2 separate regions of the Homo sapiens genome follow, and region 2 is linked to region 1. Evidence: fine-mapped expression QTL. A gene starts in region 1. The other region holds a variant in brackets. All regions are shown on one strand. Distances are from middle to middle. Region 1 holds the start of SLC22A5 (solute carrier family 22 member 5). Region 2 overlaps SLC22A4 (solute carrier family 22 member 4).

The links. PIP is the estimated chance that this variant, and not a neighbour inherited with it, causes the effect.
Region 2: its variant is fine-mapped to the expression of SLC22A5 in gastroesophageal junction (GTEx, PIP above 0.99). The same link has a PIP of 0.9 or more in aorta.

Annotation. Positions count from the first base shown.
Region 1 is chr5:132,367,098-132,372,478 of GRCh38, reverse strand. SLC22A5 (solute carrier family 22 member 5) reads right to left here and starts at 2,769. Exons shown (of 10, transcript NM_003060.4): 1 at 2,114-2,769. The coding sequence starts at 2,506. It overlaps MIR3936HG (MIR3936 host gene), which reads left to right and starts at 2,563. Exons shown (of 8, transcript NR_110997.1): 1 at 2,563-2,635. RefSeq lists a silencer at 2,567-2,886.
Region 2 is chr5:132,302,573-132,307,953 of GRCh38, reverse strand. All of the region lies in intron 1 of SLC22A4 (solute carrier family 22 member 4), which reads right to left. Among named protein-coding and RNA genes, the nearest start is that of SLC22A4, 11 kb to the right of the region's middle. The variant T/C (reference allele first, on the strand shown) is at 3,111.

The sequences.
Region 1 (5,381 bases):
AGGCAGCAAAGCAGGAACAAGTGACTAGAGTAAGCCGGGGAACCCTCAGGGGTCAATGTAAAACTCCAAGAGATGCCATGTGCTTCTTCTTGCTTCACTACTTCCCTCTTCTTTAGGCAGCCCCAAGTAGAATTTGTAGGGATTCCTGTGTCATGTTCCCCTCTGTGGCCTCTGCCTGCAACCTCAGGGACAGCCTCTGCTTTCATAGTACTCACTGGCTTCCGGGAAGGTAACACACCCACCTGTGAGGCTAGGACCCAGGATTTGTGGCAACTGAAGGTTCCAATTTCCTGTGGATTCATGGGCCAGAAAGCACAGTTGGCTACCTCCAAGGAGTGCCTCTTTTGTCAAGCCATGATGCCTCTGGACACTGAAGCTATGTCACTAGCTAAGAAATCCCAGTGGGGCTCCGGTCACACTCCCACTACATATATGTGGAGAAAGCAGGTCCAAATGCTGGGGACATCAAATTTCCAAAAAGAAAAAACACACACATGCACACACACTTGGATCTCCCAGGGTAGCTCTCAGACTCCATTGAAGGGTGATGACGCCAAGAAGCAACACAGTTGGGATCTCCAGAGCCCCTGTAAGCCCCTCTGAGGCTCCAGGAGGGGAGGCTCAGCACCAACATCCAGCAGGGCTTGAAGCTGTGCCAGGGCCTGTGGCACTCTCCCTCTCTATGAACTCTCCCCTCTCTGTGAACTCCGCCGTCCTGCTGGGTGGTTTCTTGCTGCTGCACTGGGGCCTTCAGCTCACTATTATGCTGAGCTGAACACCCTAGGCTCACGGAGAGGCCTCCTCTTCTGGGAAGCCTTCTCTAACCTGCGAATTGGTCATCTGCACATTTAGTGAGCCTATCTATCAATGAGGGCTATTCACTGGCTACTTACTCAATGCTGCTGAAACTTCAGGGAGCTAGAGTGCCAGTGTCTAAAAAAGACACAAAACACATACATCATTAACATCATGTTCCTACATCCAGCTCCAACAACTGCTCCAACAGGTTCGGAGGGGACAGACAAAACCACCCAGAGGGAAAATCCAAGGGGATGAGAAATGAGAAAGGCTCCCCTACACCCTATGACCTAAGGCTGTATGCTTTAACTAAATCTGGCCGACAGCCTTGCCTCATAATACCTGAGAAAATATTCCAGGTCAACAAGTCACCCTGAACCCATCTTCAGATGAATGGATCTTAAAGAGTGACAACTGACGGCCTGGCGTGGTGGCTCACGGTTGTAATCCCAGCTTTGGAGGCAGAAGCAGGCAGATCACGAGGTCAAGAGATCGAGACCATCCTGGCCAACACGGTGAAACCCCGTCTCTACTAAAAACACAAAAATTAGCTGGGCGTCGTGGCTCACAGCTACTCGGAGACTGAGGCAGGAGAATCACTTGAGCCCGGAAGGCGAAGATTGCAGTGAGCCAAGAACGCACGACTGCGAAGGTTGCAGTGAGCCAAGAACACACGACTGCGCTCCAGCCTGGTGACAGAGGGAGACTCTGTCTCAAAAAAAAAAAAGACTGACAACTGACCATGGGAAAAGGCAAACAATTACTTACAGGGCATGACCAGATTGTCGTTTTTGGGTTGTGGACGGTAGGGGAAGGAGTAACTAGAGGAAAAAGGGAAGAGGCAGTTGTATACACATGCTTTATTTAACTTTTAAAAGTTCAGGAAAGAGAAGTATTTCTTCTCTTCTAAAAAGAAATCAAGAGACTAGAGGAAAAACGGGATAGCCCCTGGCCCAAGTCCTGGCTCTGCTACTTACCACCCCCAACCCCAACTAGAGTAAGTCCTGGACACACAGGGCCATAGAGCATCGCCCAGGGACCGCCAGGACCTTCCTGGTACCCTCTTCAAAGTGGCCATCAGGACGGGAGGCCAGACTGACCACCTGTGCAGGGAGGAGCACACTGTGGCTGGAGGTCACCTCGTGAAGCGTTCCCAAGCCACCTGGCTGGAGGGTCTCCATCGCTAGGGTGTTGACCGTTGGGGGAGGGGGAGTGACAGCGTCCAGTGCGCATCTGGGAGAGAGGAGCTCGGGTTCAAGGACCGCGACAGGTCCTCCGAGCCCTGGTCTCAGCCCCAGCAGGGGCCGGCACCCACCTCGGTCACAATGGTGGACAGGTAGACGTCCTGACTGAACTCCCAGCCATCCAGACAGCTCTCCTGCTCCAGCTGCCCCAGGTCCACGTCGCGCCCCGGCTCCAGCCCAAGCGCCGAGAAGTTGGCGATGGTGGCGAGCCGGTAGCGGCGGCAGCTGTGGGGCACCTCGCGGCCGTCCCGCAGCCGCAGTGGGACAGTGTGGTTGCGCCAGGCGCTGCTCAGGTTCGCGGCGTCCGGCACCCGGCAGCGGTGCTCCGGGGTCGCTATCAGGAACACGGAGGACAGGCCGGTGAAGCCATTGGGGATGATGCTGGCGCTGAGCAGGAAGAAGATGAGGCGCTGGAAGGGCCCCCACTCGCCCAGGAAGGCGGTCACCTCGTCGTAGTCCCGCATGCCGCCCTCAGAGGCCCACAGAGCGCGGCCTGGGGTCGGGGAACGCGGCGGGCTTTGCGCGTGCGCGCGGGGCACCCGCCGCCGACCAGGCAAGCCAGGCAGCAGGCGACCCAAGACCGTCCGCGGAGGGTAGGCTCGCGAGCTGACACCGCCGCCTTGGTCCTGCCGCGGCTGGCCTTACATAGGGCGCACGACCAGGGAAGGTTGCGGGCCTGGGCCGCAAGGCGCGCCCCGCTGGCAGGCAGAGCGGCGCCGGCGAAGGCGGAGCTGGGGCGGGACGCGAGGGCGCGGGGCGGGCCGGGAGTGCACCTGAGGCCCGGGCGGGGCCTGTCCTGGGGACCTGGCGAGGCCCGGCCTCTGCCAGCCAAGCCTGCTGGGGACGACCGAGGTAGCCCGGGCTCGGCTTAGGAAGGCAGCGGGACTCGAGGCCTTGGGGTCCGAGTCCGAACTCGCTCCTCTAGCGCCGGGCGGGGAGCGAGTGGGAGAGCGGCCGCGAAGCTCCAGTGTTGAAAACGCACCCCTCCCAGCTTTTTGCAAGGCCTACTTGGGGGCGGAGGTAAGGAGAAAGTCACTGGCCCAGGGTCTCACAGATAGTTGCTCTTGACACCGCCTAATCTTATAAGAGGGACGGGGATTATTTTGAACCTGGGACTGTTAACTACCCTAGTAGAGAGGCTGGGAGCTATGACTTTTCATTCTAGTCCAGATGCCCTTTCCACATTTTCGTCTGTAACAAGCCATTTTGTTCATGCAGATGTAAAAATTTAACTTCACGATTAACGATCCTAGCCTAGGGTTAAATATTCCCCACAGATTAGTTATTTCCGTGCAGAGTTTATTCAGAAGCTAACTGGAAAAAAAAAAAAAGCAGCGAGGTGATTCTAAAGCAGCAATGTTCCATAGGATAAGGAGCTACATTTGTTATGTTAACTTTTCTAGTAGCCATATTAATAAAATTGCCAGATTTAGCAAATAAAAATATAGGACTCCTAGTTAAATTTGAATTTCAGATATAGAATGAATAATTTTTAAATATTATGTCCCAAGCAGGAATATATAAAATAAAAATGTAACTGGTTGTCCTGTATTTTATTGGGCAATGCTGCATATTTAAAAAGTAAAAATAAAAGATGAAATTAACTTTAATGGTATATTTAATCAAGTATATCCAGAACATGATCATTTCATCATATAATCAATATAGAAATTATTGATATTTTACATTGTTATATGTAAATCATTGATCTTTTTTTCCCCTCCTCATACTAAATCTTAAGAATTCAGTGTGTTTCACAGGTTCTCAGGATTTGAAAAAAAAAAAAAAAGGAATCCAGTGTGTATTTTACAGCACATTTCAATTTGGACTAGCCACACTTTTTATTTTTTAATATTTATTTATTCATTTATTTATTGGAGACACGGTCCCACTGTGTCACCCAGGCTAGAGTGCAGTGGCACAATCATAGCTCACCGCAGCCCTGAACTCCTAAGCTTAAGTGGGCCTCCTGCCTCAGCCTGCTGAGTAGCTAGGACTACAGGCACATGCCACCGTGCCCAGCTAATTTTTTTATTTTTTTTATTTTACAGAGACAAGGCATCCCTGTGTTGCCCAGGCTGGTCTCAGACTCCTGGGTTTAAGCAATCCTCCCACCTCAGCCTCCCAAAATGCTGAATTACAGACGTGAGCCACTATGCCTGGCCAGACTCATTTTTTAAGTGCTCAGTAGCCACATGTAGCTATTGGTTATCTTATTGGACAGCACCATTCCTAAGGCCTTTAAGAATTTGGGCTGCTAAACTTAACAATGCAAGATATTCCTTTTTAAAATAGTAGTGGCTTAGTGATAGAAACAGAACTAAGTGTATATTTTTACAATATAATGTGTTGAGTAAAGAATATTTAATAGTCACTATATTATGAGTTGAAAATAAAGCTACAGAAAGGGAACCTAACCTGGCCAGCAGATTTTTAACAAGGAAATCTAAACATTTGCATAAAGCATAATAGACTTAAAAAAATTATGATAAAGATGTTATCACAGGACTTGTTTGTTTCTTTATACTTACTATTCACTATTCTTACTTCCTGAAGATGGATGGTTATACCTTCAGCAATGTACTTAAATCCTTCTAACATCTTATGTGAAGTTATAGTTCTTATCTAGAACTAACTGAAAAAGAAAGCAAAGCTTCTTGAAAATAAACTCCTTTTTTGTGTGCTAAAATATTATTTTAATGCTTCAAAAGAAATGAAAGCTTTTATGAGAAGAATGTTGACCTCTGTCCAGACCAAACAAGATGAAGAAGTCTTATTTTAACATTTGAGAAATATCAGTTGGGCATCAGATAACATTCCTGAAAGGGACTGAAAACAATGCAGTATACTACAAAAGAAGCTGCATATCCTTAGGAAGAAAAGAAACTATTTGTCATAGATGGCTTGTCCACATGCGCAAAGCAGAGAGCAACCTAAGATGGTGCCGTCCAGTTCCAGGTGCACTGTGATTACTATCTGAATGCCATTACTATTTAAATTGCATTTTTTTTTTGAGACAGGGTCTCCTTCTGTCACCCAGGCTGGAGTGCAGTGAGGTGGTCTTGGCTCACTGCAGCCTCAACCTCCTGGGCTCAAGCAATCCTCCCACCTGAGCCTTCCAAGTGCCTGGGACTACAGCCACGCGCCGCTACACCCAGCTATTTTTTTTGTATTTTTGGTAGAGACAGGGTTTTGCCATTTTGGCCAAGCTGGTCTCAAATTCCTGACCTCAAGTGATCCCCCCGTCTTGGCCTCCCAAAGTACTGGGATTATAGGTAGGAGCCACCATACCCAGCCTTAAATTTCATCTTTTAAAAGAGAAAGAGAGCTTAGAATCTT
Region 2 (5,381 bases), 65 kb after region 1:
GGAGTATCACGCATTGCACTTGGAAAATCACCCTCAGCCTTGAACTAACTCTCCAAGTAGCCAAAGTCTGGCAGTTTTAGTTTTTACCAGAGCTATAAAGGACCATAAAGATAAGTGAACCCCGTCTGACCTGCACGGAACTGAGAACGCTGGAAGGTAGCCTGGTGTTCAGCAAAGAACACAGGCTTTCTCGGGGTCTGCAACTTTGGACTGTGTGATGTTGGGCAATCCATTCACCTCTATTAGCCTGCTTCTTCACCTTCAAAAAGATGACAATAATACCTGCTCCTAGGTTTGTTGTGTGCATTGGATGGGAAATATCAGTGGAGCGTCTGACACATTACAGGCCTCATTAAATGGTAGTTCCCTTTCTACCAGGCTCATACTAGTAGAGCATTTTATTTGTCCTGAGCAAAATCATGACTTGGAACACATGGACGAATAAGCAAAGCAGGTTACACTTAAATCTGACTAAGAGAAAGAAATTCTAAGAAATAAAAATTATTCCAGTCCATTACTAAAAGCTAGAAAAGCTCTTATAAAAGGGATTTGATAAATGGAATTCAATCCCAGAGATGACTGTGAGTGAAAAATTAGCAATGGTCCTTTTAAGAATAAAAGATTGATTTCTATAGTATCCTCTCATAGTTATCCTTTATTCTAGAGAAAAGTAAGAAGTAGTAGTTAATAATGGACTATACATCCACCCCAGTTCTATCTTTGTCACTTGATTGTGACTTAAAGCTGGGAATTCCTTGACAATATGAAAAAACAAAACAAAGAAAAACAAAAACAAACATGGCTAGTTAATTACTTTTTTGTAACAACTTTATTGAGATATGATTTATACACCATAACATTTACTCTTTTAAAGTATACAAATCAATCATTTTTAGTATATTCACAGACTTCAGCAACCATCAGCAATGATCTGATTTTAGAATTTTCATCACCCTTGAAAGAAAACCCATACCTGTTAGCAGTCACTCCTCATTCGCTACTTCCTCTAGCCCCTGGAAACCACTAATCTACTTTCTGTCTCTATGAATTTGCCTATTCTGGACATTTCATATAAATGGAATCATACAATATATAGTGTTTTATGACTGGCTTCTTATACTTAGCTCCTTTTCTAAGTCCATCCATGTCATTGTGCAGTGTATCAGCACTTCATTACTTTTTATGGTTTAATAATATGCCATGGTTTGGGCTGGGTGCGGTGGGTCACACCTGTAATCCCAGCACTTTGGGAGGCCGAGGCGGGTGGGTCACCTGAGGTCAGGAGTTCAAGACCAGCCTGGGTAACATGGTGAAACCCTGTCTCTACTAAAAATGCAAAAATTAGCTGGGCACGGTGGCACGTGCCTGTAATCCCAGCTACTTGGGAGACTGAGGCAGGAGAGTTGCTTGAGCCTGGAGGTGGAGGTTGCAGTGAGCTGAGATCACACCACTGCACTCCAGCCTGGGCAACAAAGTGAGACTCCATCTCAACAACAACAACAACAACAACTATATATATATATATATATATATATATATATATATATATATATATATATATATATATATTTCACGGTTTGGGTCTACCACGTTTTCAATGATCTGTTCATCAGTTGATAAGTAGTTGGGTTGTTTCCACTTTTTGGCTACTATGAATAATGCTGCTGTGAACATTCATGTACAACATTTTGTGTGTACATGTTTTCATTTCTTTGGGGTATATACATAGTAGTGAAATTGTTGGGTCATACGGTAAGTATATACTCAACCTTTTGCAGAACTCCTAATCTGCTTTCCAAAGTGGCTACACCATTTTACAATCCCAACAGCAATGAATGAGGGTTTCAATTTCTCCACATTCCTACCAGTACTTGTTATTGTGTGTCTTTAATTTTAGTCATTGTAGTGGGTGTAAAGAGGTATCTCATTGTGGTTTTGATTGCATTTCTCTAATAACTAATGTTGAACATCTTTTGCATTGAATCTATTGATCAATTTGGAGAGCACTGCCATACTAACAATAAGTCTTCTGCTCCATGAACAGAACATGGGAAGCTTTTCCACTTGTTAAGGCCTTCTGGAATTTCTTTCAATGACATTTTATAGTTTTTAAAGTATACATTTTGCAAATTTTTGGTTAAATTTATTTCTGAAGTGCCTCCTTTAATATTTCTTGTAAGACATCACTGCTAGAAACAATTCTCTCAAGTTTTGTGTATTTTTGAATTTCTTTATCTCAGTTTTGAAAGACAGTTTTGTTGGATGCATGATTCTTGGTTGACAGTTTCTTTTTTCCTTCAGCACTTAGAATATGCCACTCCACTGCCTTCTGTCCTTTATGGTTTCTAATGAGAAGTCAAACGTTGATCTTATTGGAGTTCTCTTGTATGTACCTAGTCATATATTTGCTGCTTTCAAAATTTTCCCTTCGTTTTTGTCTCTTTTTTTATTTAAGCAGTTTTACCATGATATATCAGGGTGTGGATCTCTTTGTGATCATTCTATTTGGAGTTTGTTGAGCTTCTGAAAGGTGTAGATTAATGTTTTCCACCAAATTTGGGAAGTTTTCAGTCATTATTTCTTTGAGCATTTTTTCTGCCCTTTTCTCTCTCTCTCCTCTCCTAGTAATTCTATTATGCATATATTGCTATGTTTAATGGTGTTCCCCATTTCTCTGAGACTCTATACATTTTCTTTATTCCCTTTTTCCTCTCTGTTCTTTGGATTGCATAATTTCCAATCCTCTATCTTCAAGTTTGCTGATTCTTTCTTTTGCCTGTTCAAATCTTCTGTTAAGGCCCTTGAGTTACTTTTAAATTTCAATTATTGTATACTTTTACTCCAGAAGTTCTATTCAGTTGTTTTGTTTGTTTAAGAGACAAGGTCTCTTTCTGTTGCCCAGGCTGGGGTTGAACTCCTGGGCTTAAGCAATCCTCCTACCTCAGCCTCCTGAGTAACTGGGACTATAGGCACATGCCATCATGTCTGGCTCAGCTTTTAAAAATATAAATGTAATTTTTCTCTCTTTATTGCTATTCTCTATTTGATGCAATATTGTCATCATACTTTTAAAAGCATGACTTCCTTTCATTCTTTGAACATATTTATAA[T/C]GGCTGCCTTATGCCTTAAAGTCTGTTAAAATCTGACATGTGGACCCTCTCAGGCAGTTACTGTTGCCCACGTTTTCCCCCCATGTATAGGTCATATTTTTCTGTTTCTCTGCATATCTCGTAATTTCTGGTTAAAAACTGGACATTTTAGATAATATATTGTAGAAATTAGGTACTGTCACATTCTTCCACCCCCATTTCCCTGATCTTTCTTCTTCTTCTTTTCCGAGATGAAGTCTCACTCTGTTGCCCAAGCTAGAGTACAGTGGCATGATCTCGGCTCACTGCAACCTCCACCTCCTGGGTTCCAGCAATTCTCCTGCCTCGGCCTCCTGAGTAGCTGGGATTACAGGGACCTGCCACCATGCCCAGCTAATTTTTGTATTTTTAGTAGAGATGGGGTTTCCCCACATTAGCCAGGCTGGTCTCAAACTCCCGGCCTCAGGTGATCCACCCGCCTTGGCCTCCCAAAGTGCTAGGATTACAGGCATGAGCCACCACGCCAGTCTGATCTTTCTATTAAGCTGTCTGTGTCTGCTGGTATCACACCCAGCTGTTAGCCTCACTAATTGCTAGCCAGTTGCCTCATTCATTTCAATAATGCCCTGGGGGCATATATTGTCCCACAGTCTAATCCAGTTGACGTCAAGCCTCTTTGCAGTGGTAGTTTTTGAGGCAAATCTATAAGGTTTGTTTTGACTCCAGAAGGGCTGCTCTTAGCTGTCTCTTTCTTGTTTTGTTTGTTTGTTTGTTTTCTGTTTTTTCCTGGTAAACTAGCTGCATTATGGGTTCATTTGTTGCTCTAATGGAGTTACCAGAATCCTTTTAGTTGCTTACCACTAAATTCTCCATTGTTCTTGAGAGCAATCTTAGGCTGTCCTTTCACACACTCTATTTCAAATAAAGTTCGTTCCTGTGGGGACAGCTTTAGAACTCTGTTCTTTTGGATTATCTCTCCCCGCTGGGCAAAATATCTGAGCTCCTGTTGTAGAGAGGTAGGCAGGGAAAGCGGCCCATTTATCTCAGAATGACACCCCTACTTTATGAGTCAGACACTGAGTGGAAGTGGGAGCTTGGTGTGGAATCTCTGCCGTATGAATGAGCTGGGATAAGGGCAATCAAGGCTCTAATATTCTCAACTTGTGGCACCTGGAGTAGAGTCTCTACTATATGAATAGGCGGTGGGTGGAGGATGGGAACCTATGATCCCCTGGTTGCACTCACGAGGATTTTACCTTCTGTGGTTTGGAGCTAAGAGAATACAGGGATGGGTGGGGGATGGGCATTGGTTGTCCCTCTTGGTGGGCTGCTGTAGCCCTTCCTTGGAAGCTGATGGGAGAGAGAACAGTATTTTCTTGGCCATACCCACCTAGAGTGGAACTTCCATTTTTCTTGTGCTGGGAGGAAGGGGAAGGGGAGGGCTGAAGGAGTTATGACTCAAATATCATAGACTTCACTGTTCTTGCCAAGGTATAGTCGACTTTCTTGAATAAATATATGCCCTTAGGACAACTTCCAGAGACTCTAAATGTGTGTGTGTGTGTGTGTATTTTCACCAGTTATGGCTGTTTCACTGAGGAGCTGGTCTATGGCGCTGGCGCTCCTCACACTGCTAACTTCGAAGTCTCAGAATCTTTTCATGTGCTAATTGATTTGTATTTCTTTGGCAAAACATCTATTCTCCAAAATGGGCAAATGATTTTATCCATTTTTAAATCAGGTTGTCTTTTTATTGCTGAGTTATCAGAGTTATTTTTATATTCTAGATACAAATCCTTTATCAGATATATGATTTGTCAATATTTTCTCCCATTTTGTGGGTTATCTTTTTGGCTGTTTAATTCTTCTACTCATATTTTCATTTACAAACAACTAAGCCAGAAGGCTGCTAAGCCTTAAAATGTTCTCAGTATCTTTCTTTCTTTATATTAGAAAAGCTACCACAGATGGAAAAGCCTCACTGATGAGTTCTGTGATCATTGGAGGCTAAACCAAAGCAGAAGAACCAGTGAGTGTGAGTGGGAAGATAGGGATGGGAGTGGAGGGGCTGTGGGAAGGAGAAGGGTCACTCAGGGACCTGGCTGTGCCCCTTGCATCCTGACAATGGATCCACCACAGCTCTACCAGTCTGTATTAGGGGAACATGAGCAAATGGCATCGTGTCTGTGCCAGTCACCAAGCACTGAGGGGAAGCTCTGGAAGTTGCCGCCTGAACCTGCCCTCCAGTCTTGCAAATGCTGAGCAGGAGCCACCAGCCTTGGACTGTCTGTG